Regions from separate parts of the Homo sapiens genome. Here all the other regions are linked to region 2. The links come from fine-mapping of genetic effects on plasma protein levels. A gene starts in region 2. Each other region holds a variant in brackets. All regions are shown on one strand. Distances are from middle to middle.

What was found. PIP is the chance, under the fine-mapping model, that this variant and not a neighbour inherited with it causes the effect. The UK Biobank Pharma Proteomics Project read protein levels with antibody pairs (Olink). The fine-mapping took linkage between variants from a reference panel, not from the people measured, so its PIPs are less certain.
Region 1: its variant is fine-mapped to the plasma level of the INPP1 protein (UK Biobank, PIP above 0.99).
Region 3: its variant is fine-mapped to the plasma level of the INPP1 protein (UK Biobank, PIP above 0.99).

Annotation. Positions count from the first base shown.
Region 1 is chr2:190,362,136-190,370,135 of GRCh38, reverse strand. INPP1 (inositol polyphosphate-1-phosphatase) reads right to left here. Exons shown (of 7, transcript NM_001128928.2): 4 at 7,449-7,509; 5 at 3,241-3,441; 6 at 859-1,033. Among named protein-coding and RNA genes, the nearest start is that of INPP1, 23 kb to the right of the region's middle. The variant TA/A (reference allele first, on the strand shown) is at 3,443.
Region 2 is chr2:190,339,733-190,348,009 of GRCh38, reverse strand. INPP1 (inositol polyphosphate-1-phosphatase) reads right to left here and starts at 4,421. Exons shown (of 7, transcript NM_001128928.2): 1 at 4,049-4,421. It overlaps LOC124906109 (serine/arginine repetitive matrix protein 1), which reads left to right and starts at 2,961. Exons shown (of 1, transcript XM_047446773.1): 1 at 2,961-8,277. The coding sequence starts at 3,694. The coding sequence ends at 4,572. RefSeq lists silencers at 3,726-4,055, 4,126-4,435.
Region 3 is chr2:190,282,786-190,291,062 of GRCh38, reverse strand. It overlaps HIBCH (3-hydroxyisobutyryl-CoA hydrolase), which reads left to right. Exons shown (of 14, transcript NM_014362.4): 5 at 578-658; 6 at 3,425-3,477. Among named protein-coding and RNA genes, the nearest start is that of HIBCH, 33 kb to the left of the region's middle. The variant T/C (reference allele first, on the strand shown) is at 4,272.

The DNA.
Region 1 (8,000 bases), 22 kb before region 2:
AGGCCATGATTATGTCTGCATATTGTTCCAATTCTTTTTAATTTCTTATTAACCTTTTAAAGATAGCAGAAACCTATTTTTAGTTTGGAAGATGGTGGGGGTAGGGGGAAAATATTAAAACTTAAGAGGTATAAACTTATGACTATTAAAGAGCAAATGATTGTTACTTGAAGCAGCTCAGGTTCAATAAAAATATGTAATCCTATATAAGTGAAAAAATATGACCTATTTCAATAAAAAGCTGAACTGCTTGTTCCACCTGGACTTTGCCATGCCCTGGAGTCAACCCCAAAGCACAGGCCATGGATCAGAGGCAGCTGAGTCCTGGCCACTTTCTACGCTCTGTTTAAGAGTGCATGGAAGAGTGGAAGGGAGGAGGCAGAAAGGGAGTGTGAGTTAGGTTCTGATCCTGGCCATGCCTACCAATCTTTTCATTGGATAATTTTCACATTTTGTTTTGAACTTCTAAAATTATACCAAAGTTCAACTGGCTATACAGCGATGGCAGCTGTCTTATTCCCAATGTATTGGAAGGCAGTGTTACCACCACTCTACTTATCTGGTTTTGAGTGGATTCTAGAAACAGGGAACAGGATTACTATATTCCAAATGTAAAACTATGATTTCTACAGGATAGTATTAATTTTAAAATTTCTACCAGCATGCACTTGGCCTGAAATAAAATTACGCAAATCCAAGATTGAAAATAGAACTTTAATTCAAATACGCAGACTTTCAATGGCAACACTCCCATGTGTTAAGTCATGGGAATGTCATATAGTGATAATCCTAACAACAAGCAAAGCTGAGGTCGTAAGTTCTAACAACCATAATATACCAAAAATATTTGCCTTTTACCTGAGGGTGTTTGGATCTCGTGACACAAAAGGTTGATTGATGACTCCCATCAGGGGAACCCCTGTCTGTATGTCATAGACACCAATTAAAATGGTGACACACTGAAGTCCACAGGGGAAGATTCCCTGGTTGGATTTAATGTCAGCAGAACCTTTTATATACTGATAAGTTGAATCTGAAAAAGGAAACAAATGTGTTTGGATTCAGGTAAAGATCATTTAGAAGACTCTGTTCCATATGACTTCTCTCTTCTACTGATTTGGTAACCAATAATTTTTTACCTTTGGATGTCACTGTATTGAATTGTTATTTGGCCTCTTGTACTTTACTTTTAAATTGCTTGTGTTTCATTTTCCTGACTGTGAGAACTCTTGAAGGGAGAGGATGTGTCTATAGTTCCTGTGGCATAGCAATTTGTATATAACAGGCATTCAAATATTTGTTACTTATCAAAAGCATTGAAAAAGTAATAACCAGAATAATTGGTGGGATTATTTTAGAAATACTACTAATCAGAGGACTAGTACAATGTGAGATGGAAAAGCCTCCTTCCAATGGGTGAAAAAAAAAGACCTACTATTTGATAGCACAATAGGGTAACTATAATCAATAAGAACTTAACTGTACATTTTAAAATAAAGAGTGTAACTAGATTGTTTATTACTCAAAGGATAAATGCTCAAAGGGATGGATACCCCATTCTCTATGATGTGCTTATCTCACATTGTGTGCCTGTGTCAAAACATCTCATCTACCCCATAAATATATACACCTATTATGTACCCACAAACATTTTAAAAAGGAAAAGAAAAAAAGAAAAGCCCCCCTCCTGTAATAGGTCACAGGTAATATTATCTTTTACTATTATTATTTGGTCCCTCAAGTTAGAAGGAAGAAAGAGACAATGATGGTGGCACCAAAAAAAGAAATTAACGGAGCTCCTATGAAACAGAGGCAGAGAAACTAGGTTTCCCCTTAAGAGATGTACATGCCAGCAGCTGACTGCTGACGTCTAGGGAGTCAACACACGGCTAAGGATGTGCCTGGCAAAAGACTCAAAGAGCTCAAAAACAGAATCAATTCAGGGTGGAACCAAGAAACAGGAGATCTCTGTCCCTCAGAAACTATAACTGATGCCAATTTACCCTTAAATGATCAAAGATTTGGGGAAAGGTTTTTAGTTTCCATATATCATCCACTGGCTGAATGTGATATAATTATCTGAAGATTAAACCCATTTCAGTATCATCCTGTGAATGCACTTGTAGGATGGGAAGGGCCCAGAGAGGAGTTTGCCTGGTCCTTGAATGGTCCCATTGTGTTGGGTGGGGAAGAAAAAAAAGGAAGGGGGAGCTTATTAAAATTATTACCTAGAACTTGTATTAATAGCATCATTGAAGATAAAGGCTGGCTGGGCATGGTAGGTCATGCCTGTAATCATCCTAGCACTTTAGGAGGCCAAGGCAGGCAGATCGCTTGAACCCAGGAGTTCGAGACCAGCCTGGGAAACATGGTAAAAACCCCTTCTCTAAAAACAATATAAAAAATTAGCCTAGTGAGGTGGCATGCAACTCTGCCACCTACTTGGGTCCCAGCTACTTGGGAAGCTGAGATAGGAGGATTGCTTGAGCTCAGGAGGACAAGGCTGCAGTGAGTGAGTTCTGACTGTGCCACTGCACTCCAGCCTGTGTGCAACACGAGACTCTGTCTCAAAAAAAAGGGTTACATTTTCAAAACAATGGATTATACATTATGGTTCTATCACAATCATGACCAAAAAAAATGTAGAGCTCATGCAGGGCTCACAAACTGCTCATGCGTCACATTCAGCTTTTTGCTTGACCTGTACTGTGTTTTTTTGATTGTTTCCTTCTTTAACTGAATTAGTAGCTAACGGTTAGAAATTGGGATATATCGCTGAAAACCTTGGATTTTGGTTTCTCTTTAAAAATCTGAAGAGCTGGCCTGTACTCCCATATGGTAACAATCTGCTAAAGCTAAGTGCTCTTTAAATGGTATGTGTGCTCAATTGGTCATAACTGCTCTCACTTCATTCTCTCATTTACTTACCAGTCTGGTCCCTGAAGTCTTTTGAAGAGAAGTTAATTCATCTTTGCATGTGTGCCTGTATGTATGTGTGTGTATATACACACACCTGTTATAGATATGTATATATATACACACGGCTATAATATATATGTATATATACAGAACACATGACACATACACCTCAACTCTCATTGTTTTAAAACTTTAAAATTTTAAAAACTTCTAGCAGAGTTAAACTACACTCAATAATTTTTATTTTTCCAACACCCATCCCCAACCCCACCACCAAAAAAAAGATTGCAAATAAGAACAAACATACTTTCCTATACTTACCTATGGGGTCCACCCAAATTCCCAAAATGTCCTGTGGAACATTGATCTCTGTGGAATCCAGAGTTGGGTCAGTAAAGGCAACATCCTGATGAACAACCCTGGCTAATGCTTCAGATGCCACCTTGTTACCATTGAGGACTTTGCTAAGAAGCTCTGCTGTTTCCTCCTCTGTTGAACACAACCTCAAGGTAATCTTTTCCCC[TA/A]GGGTAAAGCCACACGATAAGCCATTACATTTCAAGAGTTTCAGTGGAGAAAGAACAGAGAGAGAGAGCTAAAGAGTGAGAGAGACAGAGAGAGCGAGAGAGAGAGACAGAGAGAGAGCGAGAGACACAGAGAGCGAGACAGAGCGAAAGAGCGAGAGAGACAGAGCAAGAGAGTGAGAGAGAGACACACAGAGAGAGCGAGAGACACAGCAAAAGAGCGAGAGACAGAGAGAGCAAGACAGAGAGAGTGAGACAGAGTGAGACAGAGTGAGACAGAGTGAGAGCAAGAGAGACAGACAGGGAGAGTGAAAGAGACAGAGCAAAAGAGTGAGACAGAGCAAGCAAGAGAGAGACAGAGCGAGAGAGTGAGACAGAGAGAGTGAGACAGAGCGAGAGAGACAGAGAGCGAGAGAGAGACAGGAAGAGTGAAAGAGACAGAGGGAAAGAGTGAGACAGAGAGCAAGCAAGAGAGAGACAGAGCGAGAGAGCGAGACAGAGCAAGAGACAGAGAGCAAGAGACAAAGAGCGAGAGAGACAGCGAAAGAGCGAGAGAGAGCAAGAGAGACAGAGCGAGACAGAGAGCGAGAGATTCAGGGAGAGACTGAGAGAGACAGAGTGAAAGAGACAGAGAGACAGAGAGAGCAAAAGAGTGAGACAGAGAGCGAGCGAGAGAGAGCGAGACAGAGCGAGAGAGCGAGAGAGAGCGAGACAGAGCGAGAGAGCGAGAGAGAGCAAAAGAGTGAGACAGACAGTGAGCGAGAGACAGTGAGACAGAGCAAGAGAGCGAGACAGAGCAAGAGACACAGAGAGAGACAGAGCAAGAGAGACAGAGAGCGAGAGAGACAGCGAGAGAATGAGACAAAGATTGAGACAGAGAGAGCGAGAGAGCAAGCAAGAGAGACAGAGAGAGAGTGAGCCAGTGAGAGAGTGAATCAAAAGCTGTGCACTTAGATTGAGGGCAATATATCCATCCCAGCAGTTCCTATGCCTGGCTGACTGCCAGAATCACCTGGTGGGGCTTCATCAAGTCAGATGCTCAGTGGCTACCCAGGCACTTAACCTGAATAGTAAGAGATGGGTTTCAGGAATCAAAAGACCTCCCTAGAAAAATGCCCATGTGGGCACAATTTTGTATCCCAGTTAAGGGATACATAGGCCAGTTAACAATTCCTGAATTCCTGATCATTAATCTTTTTAAAATTTGTCTTTTGACTTTTTATATACTTAAGTCACCCTGTCCGTGTCTGAATATGTTATTGAAAAGAATGGAGGTTTTTCAACACACCGAAGTGCTTCTACCTCCTTATATGATATTGCTTTTAACTTAAAATTGTTTATGCTAAGTAACATAAAATGGTATATACCAATCTTTAAATGTAGTAAAACTTTATGCCTCTAAATGGTATACATATAAATAGCTCTCCTCTGTGGAGCCCATTGAGAACCAGAACATAAGCAAAGCTGCTTCTTCAAATGAAACGATAAGTTACCGAGGCCAGGTGCTTTACCATCGCTTTAAACATGCTTCTTAGACCCTTGATTAATCTGGTTTCAGCCCTTGACAGAAGTGAGGGAAGAGGCTGGTAAAAAATAGGCAAGTTAATAGCAACAAGAAGTGACAGCAGTGGAGGAAAAAAAATCTTAAAAACTAAGAAAACATGGCACTTTGGAACGTTTTAGATACTCCTAGCTATCTAGTAGCTATCTAGGTAGCTACTTCTACCCTTCTTATTCCAAGGACCAGCAGTGTCTATATCAGCTGGGAGCTTATTAGAAAGTCAGAACCTTAGGCTGAGCGTGGTGGCTCATGCCTGTAATCCCAGTACTTTAGGAGGCTGAGGTAAGCAGATCACTTGAGGTCAGGAATTCAAGACCACCCTGGTCAACATAGTGAAACCCCTGTCTCTAATAAAAGTATAAAAAAATTAGCTAGGCGTGGTGGCAGGTAGCTTAGCATGTCTGTAATCCCAGCTACTTGGGAGGCTGAGGCAGGAGAATCGCTTGAATTTGGGAGGCGGAGGCTGCAGTGAGCCAAGATTGTGCCACTGCACTCCAGCCTGGGCAACAGAGGGAGACTCCATCTAACAAAAAAAAAAAAAAAATCAGAACCTCAGATGCCACCCCAGACCTACTGAAATTTTTTTTTTTTTTGAGACGGAGTCTTGCTCTGTCACCCAAGCTGGAGTGCAGTGGTGCGATCTCCGCTCACTGCAAGCTCCGCCTCCCGGGTTCACGCCATTCTCCTGCCTCAGCCTCCTGAGTATCTGGGACTACAGGCGCCCGCCACCACGCCCGGCTAATTTTTTTGTATTTTTTAAGTAGAGACGGGGTTTCACCGTGTTAGCCAGGATGGACTCAATTTCCTGACCTTGTGATCCACCCGCCCTGGCCTCCCAAAGTGCTGGGATTACAGGCGTGAGCCACCGCGCCCGGCCGACCTACTGAATTTTAACCAAGATCCTGAGGCGATTACATGACCAGTAAAGTGTGGGAAGCACAATATACATCTATTACAGTGATGACTGAATCAGCAAGAAACAGTCAAATTTAGTTAAATTAACTTAATTCAAAGTAAATTAGACTGTTAAAGTTGGGGAATAATAAAGCTAATAATGGCTACTTACTGCACACCTACTCTGGGCTCAGTAAAACTTATGGGATCATTCAAAGGAAGAAATTATATCACTCCTTTGCTTGAAATTTGCCAGAGACCTCCCATCCCACTGAGAGGGAAATCTAAATCCCTTCCTATGATCTGGTCTTGCCTGCAATATCATCATCACCATCTCTCCTCTTCCTCTCTCCACATTTCTCTGCCCTTTTAACAAACAGGAAAATGGATGTGGCTATGCCTTTTGCCTCTATAATTCTAGACAAATGATGTATTAAAATAGCTGTTTGTGAAGTAGTCAAGCGTAGATTTTTAAATGTAAGATTGCTTATAAGTCAGGCATAAGTGTTATTTTTAACCTTCAGAGGTTTAAAAGATTTCTTTCCCGTATTACTAACATAGAACTAACTGCATCTTAATATGTGGTGCATGAAGGAGACTAAAAAATTTTCAGAGTTAATCTAGAAACTCATTTTTTCTTTGTAATTGTGTTTCTAGATATATAAGTATTTGTCACATGATCAGTATTTAATGTTCACTATTTTATTCTTCTACTATTAAATCCAAACAAACTAAAAAAAAAAATTGTTTCTCTGAAAGAAATCAGATTACCTGAGGTCAGGAGTTTGAGACCAGCCTGGCCAACATGGTGAAATCCCATCTCTAACTAAAAATACAAAAATTAGCCAGGTGTGGTGGCACATGCTTGTAATCCCAGCCACTCAGGAGGATGAGGCAGGAGAATGGCTTGAATCCAGGAGGTGGAGGTTGCAGTGAACCGAGATTGTGCCACTGCACTCCAGCCTGGGCAACAGAGCAACTCTGTCTCAAAAACAAACAAACAAACCAAAAAACTTAGTACTAAAAGGAATCTTTTAGTTAATCCAAGTACTTCACAGAGGTTCTGAGACTTAGAGAAATGATGAGTTAATTTGCTCAAGATCACACAGTATTTCAGAACCATGGCCACCTCTGTACTTTTAGCCAAGGTCCATGGACTTCCCCCAAGAGCGCACAGATGGGTTTAAACCTAGGATCTGAAATTGTCTGCATAATTTTGTAGATGGGCATCTTTGGGGCATTAATAACTTACATTAGATTCCCAAAGGGCCATGCAATTTTCCCAAAGCTTGAGTTATAAGTTACTTAAATGCCACAGATTTATATCTAAAATGATACATGGACTTGCTAAATTATTCTAAGATACCACATCTCTCTACTTAAGTTAAATGGCATGATATTCTGAGGTAGAAATTGAATGAACCTTAACATTCAAATATATTATGTTGTTTACAGTAAGTGGCTTCCAAACATTTAGTTCATGGTATAAACTAGAGACTAGAATACCATATGATAATTAAATTACAAAGACACATTAAGATTCTTATACTTACCCCAGTCATTAGTAAACTCATTGGATTCTTCTCCAAAAATATTTTTTTCCAAGCCTGGAAACTGAATGATTCAGAGTATGACGAAAAACAAAACAAAAACCCACACATATGCTCAATTCTGAACAGATTTCAATTTTATATTTCAAATTAAATAGCACAATCAGAACTGAAATTCCAAAATTTCCAATTCTAGAAACCAATCCAAGTATAAAAAAACGAAGTCAACTTGGCTCAGTGCTTAATTTTCTAATATTTTTCTGTTCTTTTGCCCCTCTAGAAAGTCAAAATCATGGTAGATGCCTGGTTCCCTTATGTCCTGTTTAGTTTGCAAAAGTACTTCTAGAAACTTCATCCTTCTACTTAAGGGCCATAGAATTCGAATATTTGCAAAGGACATGTTTTAACTATTGCTCTTAAACAACATCCCAGTAGCTTATACAAGGCAATTTCGTTGATCAAGTATCTAAAAGCACGACTTGAGACTGGATAGAAGGAATTAGAGGATAGATAACATTCGATTTTGTTTTTATTTTCAGGCGTTTGTTTCCCCAC
Region 2 (8,277 bases):
CGCGCTACCACACCTAGCTAATTTTTGTATTTTTAGTAGAGACCAGGTTTCGCCATGTTGGCCAGGCTGGTCTCGAACTCCTGACCTCAGGTAATCCACCCGCCTTGGCCTCCCAAAGTGCTGGGATTACAGGCGTGAGCCACCATGCCCAGCCTCCATCCTCATTTTAAGAGTTGCTGATAATGAAAAATTATGGCATCAATTTAAGTTATGCTTTCCTTAAGCAATGTTAAAAGAACAATTTTCTTTGGTCACTTGAATTTAACTCCTTTGATATGAATTATTACTCTCATTTGCATTGAGCAAAGCCTACCACTGTCACTTTAGAGGAAAAGGGCAAGTTTAAATATCTATTGGTAAAGTTGGCAAATATTTAAATTAATTTAAACATGGATAATTTACTATATTTTAAATATTTAGTTGGTTAAAAATAAAAACAAATGAGCAAATAACACACACTCTCCATCCCCCCCCAAAAAAGGAGAAAGAAAAGCAATGTAAAGAGGAAGAAGGAAAAGGAAAATAAATTCTGACATTTTCCATTATGGTAACTCATCTTGTCAAATTATTTTATAGGTATTTAATATTCTATTTCTTTAATTTTTTTATATATAACTGACCAAGTTTTAGGGCCAAATAAATTTTTTTTTCTTTTTTGAATGGGGTTGAGAGTCATTTTTTAAAAAGCTACAAATAAGGAGCCAGGTGTGGTGGCTCACGCCTGTAATCCCAGCACTTTGGGAGGCCAAGGCGGGTGGATCACGAGGTCAGGAGATCGAGACCATCCTGGCTAACACTGTGAAACCCCATCTCTACTAAAAATACAAAAAATTAGCCTGGTGTGGTAGCGGGCACCTGTAATCCCAGCTACTCGGGAGGCTGAGGCAGGAGAATCGCTTGAACCTGGGAGGCAGAGGTTGCTGTGAGCCGAGATCACACCACTGCACTCTAGCCTGGGCAACAGAGTGAGGCTCTGTCTCAAAAAAAAAAAAAAAAAAAAAAGCTACTAATAAGGTATTCAAATTTGCATGCCTGTCTTGCCTATAATTATTTAATCAGGCACATGGAAGAGGTAACAAATAAATCTATAATATGAAAGAAATTAGGCTGGGTGCAGCAGCTCACACCTGTAGTCCCAGCATTTTGGGAGGCTGAGGCAGGAGGATGTCATGAGCCCAGGAGTTTGAGACCAACCTGGGCAACATAGTGGGACCCCATCTCTACAATTTTAAAAATTAGCTGGGATGGTGGCACGTGCCTGTAGTCCCAGACACTCGGGAGGCTGGGGTGGGAGGATTCCTTGAGCCTGAGAGGTGGAGACTGCATAAGCCATGATCACACCACTGTACTCCAGCCTGGATGACAGAGTGTGACCTTTTCTCAAGAAAAAAAGAAAAAAAAGAAAGAGAAATTATTAGGTACAATATTTTGCTGTGGATTACTAGTTACAGTAATCTGCATTAGTCATCCATTAATAAAATGCTCTTATCACATTCAAGAAATTGAATTAACATTACATACCACATAAAAAAGACTAAACATGCAAAAATATGTTTGCTAAATTTGATCAGCAGAAGCTTGACCAGAAAAAAATATAAAAGTTTCAGATTTCCTAAATGAGTGGCCTCATCATATTAATAAAATCAGTTTCCATATATGAACATTTTATGTACAGGAGTCCTAATAAGTTTTATCAACTATTCATTCCAACAATAGTCATTTCCCACCTGCATTTCCCAAACTCACCTTTTTTGTTGTTGTTGACTATTTTAAAATTTTATCATTTTTGTCTATTTGAAATATCTCCTTTCTCTTAGAAATTCTGATCCAGGAAGTCTCAAGTTGCAATCTGGGAATCTTTTAAACCACTATTATACTCTACCCACTCCCCGACTTGCCTACTACCCTGAGGAATTTTACAATCAGACAAGTTTGAGAAACAGTACCCAACATCAATCACAGGAGACGGGAAGCAGAACTTTTATTTTTTTAATTTTAACTTAATTTTTATTTTTTGAGATGAAGTCTTGCTTTGTCGCCCAGGCTGGAGTGCAGTGGCGCGATCTGGGCTCACTGCAACCTCTGATTCCTAGGTTCCAGGGATCCTCCAGCCTCAGCCTCCTGAATAGCTGGGACTACAGGTGCTTGCTACCACGCCTGGCTAATTTTTGTATTTTTACTAGAGACGGGGTTTCACCATGTTGGCCAGGCTGGTCTCGAACTCCTAACCTCAAGTGATCCACCTGCCTTGGCCTCCCAAAGTGCAGGGATAACAGGCGTGAGCCACCACGCCAGCCAGAGCCTTTATTTCTAAGCTCTCAGCCAAACACATTAACATAGTTTTATTAACTTCATTACAAGATTCAAAGTATTTTAACAAGAACATTCATAAGGACTCACATCGGGAAAAAGTGCTTATATACACCATCCTCACCTTTAAAAAATGAAGATGACGTTTGTTTTCATTGATCACTTTATATAACATAATTATCTTTTAAGCAATTTCTGTATAACATGAAATAGAATGAGACATTTTCTAACTGTTATTAGAGACAGAATTAAAAAGCAAAATAAATATATAATAACCTTTATAACTTTTGTCTCACAGGCCTTCTATGTCAAACAAGAAATTATCTTTTCATTTTTTTCAGGACTATAACAAGGAAAGCTATAATTTAAATCTATAATAAGGTATATCATTTTAAAGGGCATTAGTCAAAGCTGCAATTTCCAAGCAAGCGGTGGTTTAGTCCAAAAGCTTGAAAAGTGGTAGCTTATTCTACACAAAAAGTACAGTGTAACTCTATGTATTTGACATAATTCTCTTCATGACTAAGCTGACTTCAAAAGTAGTATAAAAATCCATAAAAACTTAAAAATAAAGTAGGCTCTACATAAGAATGGAAACAAATATCTGTATTGAAAAAATGAATTCTTCCATTGCCTTTATTTTTTCCCTTATGTTCTCTATTTTAAAAGGTAAGAATGAGATCACTTAGCTAATTCACCAATCAAGAGTAGTTCAGTGGATTACTTTCATCCTTATACTATTATCAAGTTGAGCAGGGCTGATCCTTATCAACTTTTCTGGCTTCAAAGCTAGGAATCAGTGTAAAAGGGCTAAAAAATCTTTTACTCAACAGATGGGATCCACTTAAGTGGTCTGTCCATACTTTTAACCCACTGTTCTTTTGAAGTGAACACCATCATACAGTGGGCAAACTTCTGCTTATTCAACACTTTAAAAATACCTTTAAAATGAGAAATCTCCAAAAAACAAGCCGTGGTTTCTTATAAGTGTTTTTCACAGATGTACTAAAGTAAGCGTTTCCTTTCACACTCTTTGCGCCTAACCGTCTACATGATAGGGCCAAACCCAGGTTAAATATTTTTTTCCAGCTACCACTCTGGACACACCAACTAATTATGCACACCTCACAAAACCACCTTTCAAAATGCAGAGAGAATTAACAGCAAGGAAGTAAAGATTTTTCTAAATATAGTCCCATCATATTTATTTCACACTCATCAAGTAGGTCACTGGAGGTAGCTGGCAGCTAGGGACACTCAGATGCATCTCTCAAAGCCAAGGCTGAGACCAAGGGGTCACTGACAGCTGCGCCATCTACCTGTTGCAGCTGGGCCACTGCTCTGGACAACTGTCAGATCAGCTTCTTCGTCCTACAAATACTAATGACTGGATTTTTAAAATCGTTGTTTGCCACCCTTTCTTCCCGCCCCCCAACCCCATCGGGCCGCTCGGGCAGGGCCAAGGGCGCCGCGGGACTCACGAGCTCCCCTCCGCGCTGGCTGCAGCGGCGATGCCGGGCATGCCTGGCCGGGCCCGGCCGGGGGCGGCCTCGCTGCCGGGGCAGGGACCTCGCAGGCCGGCGCGCAGAGGCGAGGAACCCTCCCGGCGCCATCGACTCACCTACCCGCGGAGAGGCGACGGCGCGCGCCGCTCACCAGCCCGGGCCCCAGATCCAAGGAGGAGGGGCAGCGGCGCGGGGACCCTGTGGTGGGTGTCGTAAGGAGGAAAACGTGTTACCTAAGCCGGGGATGAGGACAGAGCAGGAGGCAGCAGCCTTTCCCTCGAGAAACGGAAGCGGCGGGGAGCAGGAGGAGGAGGAGGCGCGGCCCGGGCGCGAGGTTAGGCGAGGGGCGCTGGGCGTGCGGCCGCAGGCGCGGCCAGAGGACGAGGGTTGGGGAGGACGGCGGAGGTCACGCGAGCGAAGGCGAAGCCCCGGCGACGCACGGCCCCGCTTGGCTCGGCACCGGATCCGAGCTTGGCCTCAGCCAGGCCGCCGCCCCCGGCTTTCCCGCGGGACCGCGGCGTGGAAACGCGCGCTGCCGCCTCGGGGCTCCCGGGACGCGCGGGCCCCCCACGCCTGCCCGAGCCGGGCGTCCGCGACGTCACAAGTGGAGCGCGATGATTCAGAGGGAGGGCCAGGAAGGGAAGGGCTCTGGGGTCAGCTTGGCCACGGCTGCTGTTTCCTTGTCGCCGCCCACGAATTCACTTTTAAATCTTCCTCCTCCATTCATCTGTACTCTCATAGGGGACTGCGGGTTTGACAGATGGGTTGGCAGCTGTGAAGATGGACTTCCTGCCAGTGGTATCCGGGTCCCACTGTTCTAATGGAAATGTCAGGTGTACTGGATGTTCCTCAAGACACAGCAGTGTCTCTGGGCCTTGCCTCTTAAGGAGTGGGCCTCGGGCCACCTGGACAGGAAGCGCATCAAGGGTGGGGAACTTATCTCTCTCCAGCCTTTGGTGCTGTGATACTCAGTGTACCTTAAGGATGGTTTGGGTTGAACCTAGGTAGGAATGGGTGTTGGTGGGCGGGGTGGGGGTGGGGGGAATAGAAACCTTAAAAGGGCAACACAAAGTTTTGAATAGAAGAGGCCAAGCAGCCTCGCCCAGAAGCTGATGTTTGTGAATGTACTGGGCCTTCTAAAGCGGCGCTTCACACACCTTTTCACTTCTTGGCACAGGTAGGAAAGGATGATATTACAAGGGTCAAAATGGGGGTAAACAGAAGAGGCTGCTCCTGCAGAAGGCTTCCTGCAGAAGCCCTTGCACTTGGAGGGCTGGGAAGACCCATGCTGTATCTGCATCCCTGTCATTCGTTTCACGGCATCCAGTTGGGAAGCTCTGCTTAAAGCTTTGTCTGGCACGTTTTCTTAGCTACATTTTTCCACTCCAGCTGAGACTGCCTCACTGAGTTGTCAACACTTGGTCTTCTTCAGCAGTGAGGAACCAACAAGACAGGAGGCTGGGTCAATACTCAACTTGGCAAACTCCAGGAAATGGTGCTTAAAACGTTTGGCTTCTTGAATGGAATTCATGGTACTGCTCCCAGCCTGCACCTGGGTTCTCCAACTTGAGACAATTTCTCCCCGCATCCCCCCACCCTTCCCTGGCTTTCACTCACTAGCAAGTGGGCTGCTTCTACTTTCTTTCTCACATTCATTTCTTAGGTCCATTCTCAGAGCGGTTAGGATTACTGTTTAATTAGCCTCATAATCATATCTATGATGGCAAAATCAAGAAACAATTTAAACATGATTCTTAAAAGTAAGGAGATAAATACCAGAGACATAGAAGGTGAAAGAATTTGCCTCTAGGAAGCAGGAATTTAAATTTGGGGAAGACAGGGTGGAGCAAGGGATATAAATCTAGTCCATTTTTCTTTTCTTTTCTTTTCTTTTTTTTTTATTTTTAAGATAGAGTCTCACTCTGTCGCCCAGGCTGGAGTGCAGTGGCATGATCTTGGCTCACTGCAACCTCTGCCTCCTTCGTTCAAGCGATTCTCCCACCTCAGCCTCCCTAGTAACTGGGATTACAAGTGACTGCCACTATGCCCAGCTAATTTTGTATTTTTAGTAGAGACGAGGTTTCACCATGTTGGCCAGGCTGGTCTCGAACTCCTGACCTCAGGGGATCCGCCCAGCTCAGCCTCCCAAAGTGCTAGGATTCCAGGCGTGAGCCACTGCACCTGGCGGAATCTAGTCCATTTTCCACTTTGCTACCACACATCTGCAGGGTTTCTTGCTTGCTTAAAAGCTTTCATTGGCTCCCAATCTCTGATAATATCAAGAGCAAGTTCCTGAACAACTCATTCAAGACCCATCACCCCTCGCATCTGTCAACTCTGCCCCTTGAATATTACACCTCATTTTACTACACCACATCTAGTTCCCTGAATATGCAAACAGATTTCATACATTTGCACCTTTATACATGTTATTGCTTTTGCCTGGGAGAGTATTCTCTTGCTGCTATAATAATAGCTAATGACACTGTGCTAAGTACTTTCTGTGATTTATAACTGTTAATTCTTACATCAACCCTATGGTAAATGTTACTGTTATCTCCATTTTATAAACAAGAAAACTAAGACTTAAAGAGTTTAAGTGATTTGCAGAAATATGTAGTATTTGGTGAGGCTAAATTTGAACCCAGCAATCTGACTCCAGGACTAACATAATATTACCTATTCATCCTTCTAAAATGTTTCCCAGACACTAAATTTGAACAGGATTAAAAGATTTAAATGTTTTTAAGTCTTAAAAGGGCAAGGAGAAAATACAAGTGAATTGCTTTTAATCTCAAACTAAGCATGAAACAACGGCTGAAATTACAAAGGAAAAGTGACAGATCTGACTGTTGAACTTTTAACTTCTTTTATCCAAAAAAAAACCCCATAGAATAAAATTTAAAAACAAGTAAAAATTACAAAAAATTTGCAATATACATGACAGATAAGCATAACATTAAAGAGAACTTAGAAAGAAAAAATAGCCTACTAAAAATGAGCAAAATGCAAATTCGTCATCATGAGAGAAAAATGTAAATGGCCAAACATTTTTAAGAGAAGTAAAAACTTAAAACGATAATGCACCATCAAATTGAGAATAAAATAATACTCAGAGCTAGTAATTTGGGCCAGTGACCCTTGGAGTAGGATGTATAGCAACTAAAGAAACTCATACATTACTGAGAAGGGTGTAAATTGGCTCAACGATTCTGGAGAGCAATTTGACAGAATGTAGTGAAAGCGTCAAAAATGTTCACACACTTTGACTTAAAAATTACATTCCTGGAAATTTATAATACAAACATTTTCTATAAAAGGTCAGATGGCAAATACTTTGGGCTTTGAAGGCCACATATGTCTCTGTGGCTTTTCTTTTGTGTGTGTGTTTAAAAAAAAAAAAAACTGCCCCCCCTCCCCCCACCCTTGTTAGGCCATTCTTGCATTACTATAAAGAAATACCTGAGGCTGGTTAATTTATATGAAAAGAGGTTTAACTGGCTCATGGTTCTGCAGGCTGTACAGGAAGCATAATGCCATCTGCTTCTGGGGGGGCCTCAGGAAGCTTCCAATCATGCTGGAAGGTGATGGGGAGCAGATGTCTCACATGGTGAGAACGGGAGCAAGAAGGAGTTGGGGGGGAGGAGCCACATAAACAATGAGATCCCTGTGAGCTCAGAGTGAGAGCACACTTATCACCAAGGAGATGGCCCAAGCTATTCATGAGGGATCCGCCCCTATGATCCAAACACCTCCCACCAGGCTCCACCTCCAACACTGGAGATTATATCTCAACATGAAATTTGAATGGGACATCCAAACTGTATCACCCCCAAAATGTAAAGTCTCATCACAGTACATTTGGTAATGGCCAAAAGAGAAACCAAACTAAATGTCCGAGAATAAAAATTAGTTACAACTAGATACACGGAGGCAAGTTTTTAAAAAGTGTTAAAATTTTAAAATGTTGCAGAATGGTATCTATTGGATAAAATAGTATTTATGATTTATTAAGTGGAAAATACAGTTTACAAAATAATATGGTGTGATCCCGAAAACAACATAATCATGTGTGTATAAATGCATAGAAAAAAATCTGGAAAGATATAAACAGATATTTATAGTGGTCTAGGGCAGGGGATGGAATTGTAGATATTTGCTTTTTGTTTTATGTATATGTTTCCCATAATGAAATGTATTGTTTATATAATTAAAAAATATACGAAACTTTGCTTGGGGGACAACAAAGCACCTCATTTGTTAATTTGGGAAAATCTTTTATTACAATCTCTGTAAGGAGTTGGTTGCTCTCTCTTCTGTACTCCCTGATTACATAATGCTCTTCTGAGCACTTTTATTTAATAGCAGAATGGTTGATATCATTATTTAGTTAAGGTTTCCTCTATTATCGAACATCTGAGTTCCCAGTACACTAGTCTCCCCTTATCTGTGGTTTTGCTTC
Region 3 (8,277 bases), 57 kb after region 2:
AATAATCAAAAGAAAATGTAGCTTGTTGCAATATATTATTATTTTTTTTAAGGAGACAGGGTGTCACTCTTCTCTCCAGGCTAGAGTACAGTGGTGTGATGATGGCTCACTGTAGCCTCAATATCCTGGGCTCAAATGATCCTCCCGGCTCAGCCTCCTGAGCAGCTGGAACTACAGGCATGTGGCACTGCAGCCAGCTAATTAAACATTTTTTGTTGAGACAGAGTTTCACCAGGCTGGTCTCAAACTCCTGGCCTCAAGGAATCCTCCCACCTGGTTTCTCAAAGTGCTGCGATTACAGGTTTGAGCCACCATGCCCAGCCTATAATTTCTAATCTAACATTTTGTAAGAAGCATGGAAAACAAGAATAGGAATTTTTGCCTTGAAGCTTTGACATTGGACTATGGATCTGTGACTATAATATAATGTCTGTGGCAGGGGCAACTTCAAAACTTTTAACAAGTCATTTTAGAGTACTCCCTTCCCCCAGTATTTAATTTTCATAATACTTTTGATCTAGTTGACAATGTTGACTATTAAATCTTTTTTTTTTTATTTGTAATCTTTCCTTCCTAGTGATCTCGGAAGCTGAAAAGGCAAAACAGAAGATAGCTCCAGTTTTCTTCAGAGAAGAATATATGCTGAATAATGCTGTTGGTATGTGTATTCTGCTCAGAGCTTTGGAAATGGAATAAAGAAATGAGGTGGACAGTATGTACTTTGTTAAAAATGCAATCAATAGGCATCCTTACTTAAACTTTTAATACCATGTGCCAGGCATAAGTAAAGTTGATTAAACTATTTTAAGTGCTTATTTCAGAACAGTTACCCTTTAATATTAGTAGGCTATACTTAACTGCTATTTGTTATAAAATCAATATGAGGCCAGGCATGGTGGCTCACGCCTGTAATCCCAGCAATTTGGGAGGCTGAGGTGGGTGGATCACCTGAGTTCAGGAGTTTGAGACCAGCCTGGCCAACGTGCTGAAACCCCGTCTCTACTAAAAATACAAAAATCAGCTGGGTGCGGTGGCAAGTGCCTGTAATCCCAGCTACTCGGGAGGCTGAGGCAGGAGAATCAGCTTGAACCTGGGAGGTGGAGGTTGCAGTGATTCGAGATTGCACCACTGCACTCCAGCCTGGGCAACAAAGCGAGACTCCGTCTCAAAAATAAATCAATATGAAAATATGGATTTCTCATCATGTGGTAGCTTTCTTGGGGGAAAAAACTTGGGTTCCAGTTTTCTCTATGAAATGAAGTATAGTATCATTTCCTAATTCTTAGGAATAAAAATTTCTTTATATTCAAGGTTCTAGGTTTCATTGGAGGTGAAGCAGTACTTTTATCTAGCATGCGAAGTTAAGATACAGGAAATAACATAATAAGTACTTGTGTACCCTCCAGCCCAGAATTAACAGACGTCAATATTTTGTTTTTGCTTGATGATTTAAAATTTCTCCAAAAGAAATATAATACTGCAAGTTTGGAAGTTACATTTCAGCCCATTTTTTTGCTTTCCTCAGTGCCATTACTTTCCCCAGAAGCAACCATTTATCCCTCCTCAAAAACAACCATTGTCATTAATTTTTAGTGTATTCTCCTAGACCATATTTGACATTTTTACTAAATATTTATGAACTAAAAGATTTTAAGTTAGAATTTGATTGAATACATGATATTAACGTATTTTGACATATAGTTGGAAAAATAAATTCAGTTTTTGTCATGTGCCTTTTAGACAAATAAACATTTATATATTGGCATAAAAACATGAATTAATATCTAGTAGATTAAACACATGGGGATATATATGTTTTTCTAAAAATATGAATTGATGAAAATAATTACTAAGTGATGAAAAAAGCTGTATACTCATTTAACATTAAAGTATTTAAAATAGTAAAACATAAGTTTATTTTTATTTTATTATTTATTATTTATTTATCTTTTAAGAGAGAGTCTTGCCCTGTCACCCAGGCTGGAGTGCAGTGGTGCGATCTTGGCTCACTGCAGCCTCTGTCTCCCAGGTTCAAGTGATTCTCCTGCCTCAGCCACCTGAGTAGCTGGGATTACAGGCATGCACCACCACACCCTGCTAATTTTTGTATTTTAAGTAGAGACAGGTTTCACCCTGTTGGCCAGGCTGCTCTCGAACTCCTGACCCTAGGTGATCCATCTGCCCCGGCCTCCCAAAGTACTGGGATTACAGACATGAGCCACGCACCTGGTGTGGTGTAAGTTTAAAGACAAAATAGAAATGCAGAGCATTGTATCATATTTTATACAGCAAAGTAGACAAATAGAGGCCGCTGCTTTTTAAGCTTTCCAATTCCTTTTGTTTTTTAGCTTTTATTTTAAGTTTGAACTAAAAGATTTTTACTTTGTGTTTAGCAATTTACATAAATACTATCTTACTGTGTAACCATTCCATAAATTGTTTTTAACAACATGGAATGTAACTCTTCTGTGGTATCCAATATTATGATTATATCCCACATTAATTATCTGTTCTACATTAATGGATATTTTAGCTTCCAGTAGTTACTAACATAGATAGTTGTACTCTATCTAGTATGTGGTCCCTTATTTCCCATGTGCAAAAGTTTCTCCAGAAATAATATGTAGAATGGATAGATCATAGTGTTTATGCATCATTACTTTGTTTCCAAATTCTTTAAGATGCTTTTTCTACATGTCTTTTTTCTTGGCTGCTGTTGGACTTTGGATCTTCCATATGAATTTTAGAATTGTTTTATCTAGTTTCACAAAAGTTTCTACTGAGATTATGATTAGACTTAGAATGAATTATGGGTTAATTTGGAGGGAATTGACATCTTTGATATTGAATGTTCCCAACCATAATGTGACATAGCTCTTCCTTTTTTTAAAAAAAAAAAAAAAAAAGATAGGGTCTTGGTCTGTTGCCCAGGCTGGAGTGCAGTGGCATGATCACAGCTCACTGCAGCCTCAACCTCCTGTGCTTAAGTGATCAAGTGTTCCTCCCACCTCAGCTTTCTGAGCAGCTGGGAGCACAGGTGCCTGCCACCACACCTGGCTATACTTTTTTTAAGAGAGGGAGTTTTGCTGTATTGCTCAGGCTGGTCTCATACTGCTGACCTCAAGCAATCCTCCCACCTTGGCCTCCCAAAGAGGTTAGATTACAGGTGTCAGCCACCACACTGGGCCCTGGCTTTTGTTTAAAATCGAAGGTTAAGTTGTTAAATGATAATGAATAGATAGGATTGTGTTGGATTGACATTTAAAAATATGTATTTTATAAGCCATACATTTAGTCGTCTTTGGTGTTTCTTGCTAAAATTTCCTAGGGAAAATCTTGAGTATATATAATGTGGGTTTTTTTTTAAGAAAAAGGGAATGTATTTTAAACACTGTAACTAAAATTACAGCTCTGTTTCTTTCAGGTTCTTGCCAGAAACCTTATGTTGCACTTATTCATGGAATTACAATGGGTGGGGTAAGTAGACTTTTTACTCTGATCATTGTATGAGTGAGTTGTATTAAAAATAAGTTAATAATTATTAAACAGAAGTGAGCTGATGAATGTAATATAATAGAACTCATTGAAACATAATTGTGTGGATTTTGGATCCTGACAGATTTGAGATATAATATTTGCTTATAGCACTTTTAGACTATCCCAGCCCAAAAGAATATTTTATGTTCTTAGTTATGTTATATGGCCGGGCATGGTGCCTCACGTCTGTAATCCCAGCAGTTTGGGAGGCCAAGGTGGGCAGATCACTTGAGGTCAGGAGTTTGAGACCAGCCTGGCCTACATGGCGAAACCCTGCCTCTATTAAAAATACAAAAATTAGCTGAGCATGGTGGCACACACCTGTGATCTCAGCTACTCAGGAGGTTGAGGCATGATAATCGCTTGAACCCAGGAGGTGGAGCTTGTAGTGAGCTGAGATTGCACCACTGCACTCCAGCCTGGGTGACAAAGTGAGACTGTCTCAAAAACAAAAAAATATATGTATACACACACACACACACACACACACACACACACGTTATATGCTATTTTAACTTTTTGAATTAGCAAGTTTTTTTAAGCAATGGAAACTGATTGTGTTTTTATCTTTTAATATATAGAGCCTTTTTTCTACTTAAAAATAAACTGATTCTTTTCAGAAACTTCAGAAGAGAAACTAGAATGTTGAGTTTTTTTTTTTTTAAATTCAGTATTAGAGATTTGGTTGCCTAAATTGTACCTGTTACTCAAAATTTCACCTTAGTGGAAGTGTT[T/C]GGATTCTTTTTGAAGTTCTCTGTAACTGCATTTCTGTCAGTTGACAAATATTCTGCCTCTGTGCTATTACAGAGAAGTCTAAAATGTAACTGGCATTGATTAACTTGACCTGGAGTTAGAGAAAACATGAAATAATTACAAAACAATTGGTAAATTGTATGGTACTGACAAAGATTAGCCTTTGAAGAAGTGAGGGGTCAGAATTGGTCTTCATGGCAGGAAAGGGCTGCATGGAGAAGATGGTGAATTGAACTGAGCCTAGAAAGGTAGTGGAGGAGAGAAAAAGTAATGTCTTTTCCTCACCGATTGCAGGGGTCATGGCCAGTATCCATATAACAAAAGACAGATTGACAATAGAGAAGCATAACAAATTTGTTTAATCAAAGTTTTACATGACATGGGAGCCTTCAGAAAAGAAGACCCAAAGACCCACAGATCCAGGAAAAACTGTTTTTGTGTGTAAGTTCAGTGAACAATGGACAGTCATATAGAAGTATGATTGGACAAAAACGGTATTATTCAGTAGTAATAAATGGGGGAACTTAGGTAGGCTTGTTTGTTGAGATTCTTCTTGGCCTCTGTGTGTAACATTCCTTTCCTCCAGGTATAGGATGGGGCCCTTGTCACATGAGGGTTTAATGACTTTCAAGTCCGGGTGTCGTGGCTGATGCCTGTAATCCTAGCACTTTGGGAGGCTGAGGTGGGTAAATCGCTTGAGGCTAGGAGTTCGAGACCAGCTTGGGCAACATGGCGAAACCCCATCTCTACTAAAACTACAAAAATCAGTTGGGTGTGATGGTGTGCACCAGTAATCTCAGTGACTGGGGAGGCTGAGGCACGAGAATTGCTTGAACCCGGGAGGTTATAGTGAGCTGAGATCATGCCACTGCACTCCAGCCTGGGTGACAGAGTGAGACTCTGTCTCAAAAAACAAAACAAAACAAAAAGACATACTTTCAGAAGAGGTAGGTTAGAGAACTTCTTTACGGCCAGCTGTCCCACAGAAAGGCGGGGGGAGGTCACAGTGGCCTCCAAGTGGCCGTAGTTTGGGGTAGCATATCCTGAGCCGTGACAATAGGTAGGACATAGGTAGGTAGGGCCCAGGTAGGTAGAGCCTAGGTAGGTAGGTAGTATGAGGCCAAAAGGTGGAATTTTTGAAATTCCACCTGTTCAATGTTTTAAGGAACTTAACTATTTGGAATACAGGAAGTTCCCCCTTTGTTCTAGTAGAACCACCCTAAATAAGGACCGGGAATTGCTTAGATCTTGCACATCATTTTGGGAAGGGATTCTACTAGCAAGGGTGATCTGTACCTCTGCTTGGCAGAAACTGAGCGTGGGTTGGTTGTGCTTTAACCTGGGGAAAAGGAAAGCTCTCTGAAAAAAGTACTGCAGAGTAAGAGGAAGGGAAAGAATCTGAAGCATTGAAGGAAGAGCTGCCCTGTGAATGTGAAAGAAACCAGGAAAAAATGAAGACAAAAACAATGGGCATACCCAACAGCATGTAAAAATAAATGTGACCCCATTAAAACAGGAAAGAAATCCCATAAGGATAGAGCAAACTCAGATGAAAGGGCTACAAGTTGAAAAAGGGAAACAGGAAACAGGGAGGATGACTGGGAACTAATACACAGTAGCAAAGCTGACATTTTATTTTAATGGCAGTAGATTAGAAAGAGATGAATTTAATATTACAGATAGTGAAGTATCTGTGGAGAACAAACTTGAGAAACTCTCACAAAGCATTCAAAAAAATATATAAGTGATGAAAATGAATGTTTTGAGGTAATGACTATGAAAGAAAGTTACTGGGAACCCAACAAAGGAGTGATAAGTACTCCACTGAAAGTAAATCAGATACTTGGAACAGAAATGATGATCAGATATAATGAAATAAGACTTTAAGTAAAAACAAATACTCCCAAACTCAGATATGTATAATTAAAGGAAACACGAAATTTCAGATAAGTGAAAAGAGACCCATACCTAGATAAAAGCTCAGGTAAATTTTTTAAAATTATAAGCCTTAAGAAAAAAAAGCTAACTGTGAGTAGTCAGGCCAAGGAATCAAGGTAAATGGGGTGATTAGTGATATACGTTATATACAGATTTCTTCAGATTTCTCTGTTACACAATGTGACAGAAGTCAATGGGTTGAGAAGTTGTGAAGTAGTTAGGATCCAAGAGTTTTCTCCCCAACTAAGTCGTTATTTAGTATAAATATAAAATAAAAATATTATCAGAAATGGTAAATATATTGCTGACATATTACTGAGAATATTTCAGTAACTATTTGGTCTAGTTGACCAAGAGATCACTTAAAGTTATAACTCAAGACTCCTTCTGATATGAAAGGATTGGTAAGCTGCCCTTTGGTGCTATAAGTGGGCAGAACTTCCATTTTTTTTTTACAGAAGCCTGAGAATTATATTGCTCTAGCACATCATTTCTGAAGGCACTGGCCATGTTCTTCAGTTCTGGGGCTTGTATAGGTTGGTATAATGTTTGTATATATTCCTCATATGTAACAACCAAGAATATTTATTTCAAAAGAAAAGACTGCAGTGAAACAGATCAAGATAATGTTGTCTTGAATAAATGAAGTAAAGATGCTGCTGATTCTTCATACTGGTCTCTGTTTTCAGTATTTAAAGAACATAAATAACTTTCAAATAAAGATATACTTTATATCAGCCTTTCTTAACCAGAACTCCACCAGAGGATTAAGTCTTAGTGCCCTAAAATGTTCTTGGGTTTGCCTAGAGAATCAGTCTCGAGGCTGGGGCCTAGCAGTCTGTTTGAACAAGCCAAGCTCTCCAAGTAATTCTGAGTCATGTTAATTTGAGAACTAGGGCTCTAAGCCATCCCTTGAATGTAATAAATTAGCTCCTATTTCTGTCCTGTGCTTCTCGAATGGTACTAGTTATGTACCATCCTTGGGAGAATTGAGAATATAATCACATCATTTGCAGTGATCTGTGGTTCAGATGAGGAACCCCTGAGAAAGTTTGTTTTATACTATATTTTATCAGCTCCCTTAAAAATATTGTGTCTTTTCTTCCATCAGGTATGCCCAACCACATGCATCCTTAAAGACTGAAGTTCTTCCCTCTTTTTTAATAGCCATAAATATTATGGATTGAGCATCTCTTGTCTGAAATGCTTAGGACGAGGAGTGTTTTGGATTTTGGAATATTTACAATATGTTATAAATAAAGTTTCAGTGCCGCAAAAGAAATAGCACTCGAATGTAACATTTTGTTTTTAATTCTCAGCAAGGAAATGTACTACTATAGAAGGGTGTGCCCTTACAGATGGAGCAATGGTGAGCATACACCTGGACAAGGGAGGCAAAGGAGTTCTTATTCCTGATGCACATGGCCCGTGCTGCTGTGTCATTCCCCTATTGGCTAGGGTTAGACCGCACAGGCTAAACTAATTCTGATTGGCTACTTTAAAGAGAGTGATGGGGTGAGTGGTTTGGCAGAAAAAATGGTTATGGCAGAGCAGTAAATTGGAATGAGTCAGGGTGGAGCAGGTAATCGAAAAAGGTTGCTTTATGAGGAAGTTAAGTTTAAAAGTAGAAGGCAAAGAATTGAACATACTGACATTGACTCTTTGAAGAGAAATTTAGAACTCATATCTAACAAATCTTAAATCTAAAAATCTGAAATCGGAAATGTTCCAAAATCTGAAATATTTGGAGCACCAACATGATACTCAAAGGAAATGCTCATTGGAGCATTTCAGATTTCAGAGTTTTGGATTCAGGATGCTCAACTTACACTACAATTAGATGTGATTTCTTCTTTCATTGAGTCAGTGCTTTCAGTCTGTACTCTAAATTTGGTGTTTGTACTTTATTGTTACTTTATATCTCATCTTTCCAACTGTATTAGATGGTCTGGAAAGGGCAAGGATTATCCTACCTTTTTTTTTTTTTTTTTGGCCTTCTCGTAACAACTAGGAATATACAGTTATAGAGAAATTTTTAAACAATTATAC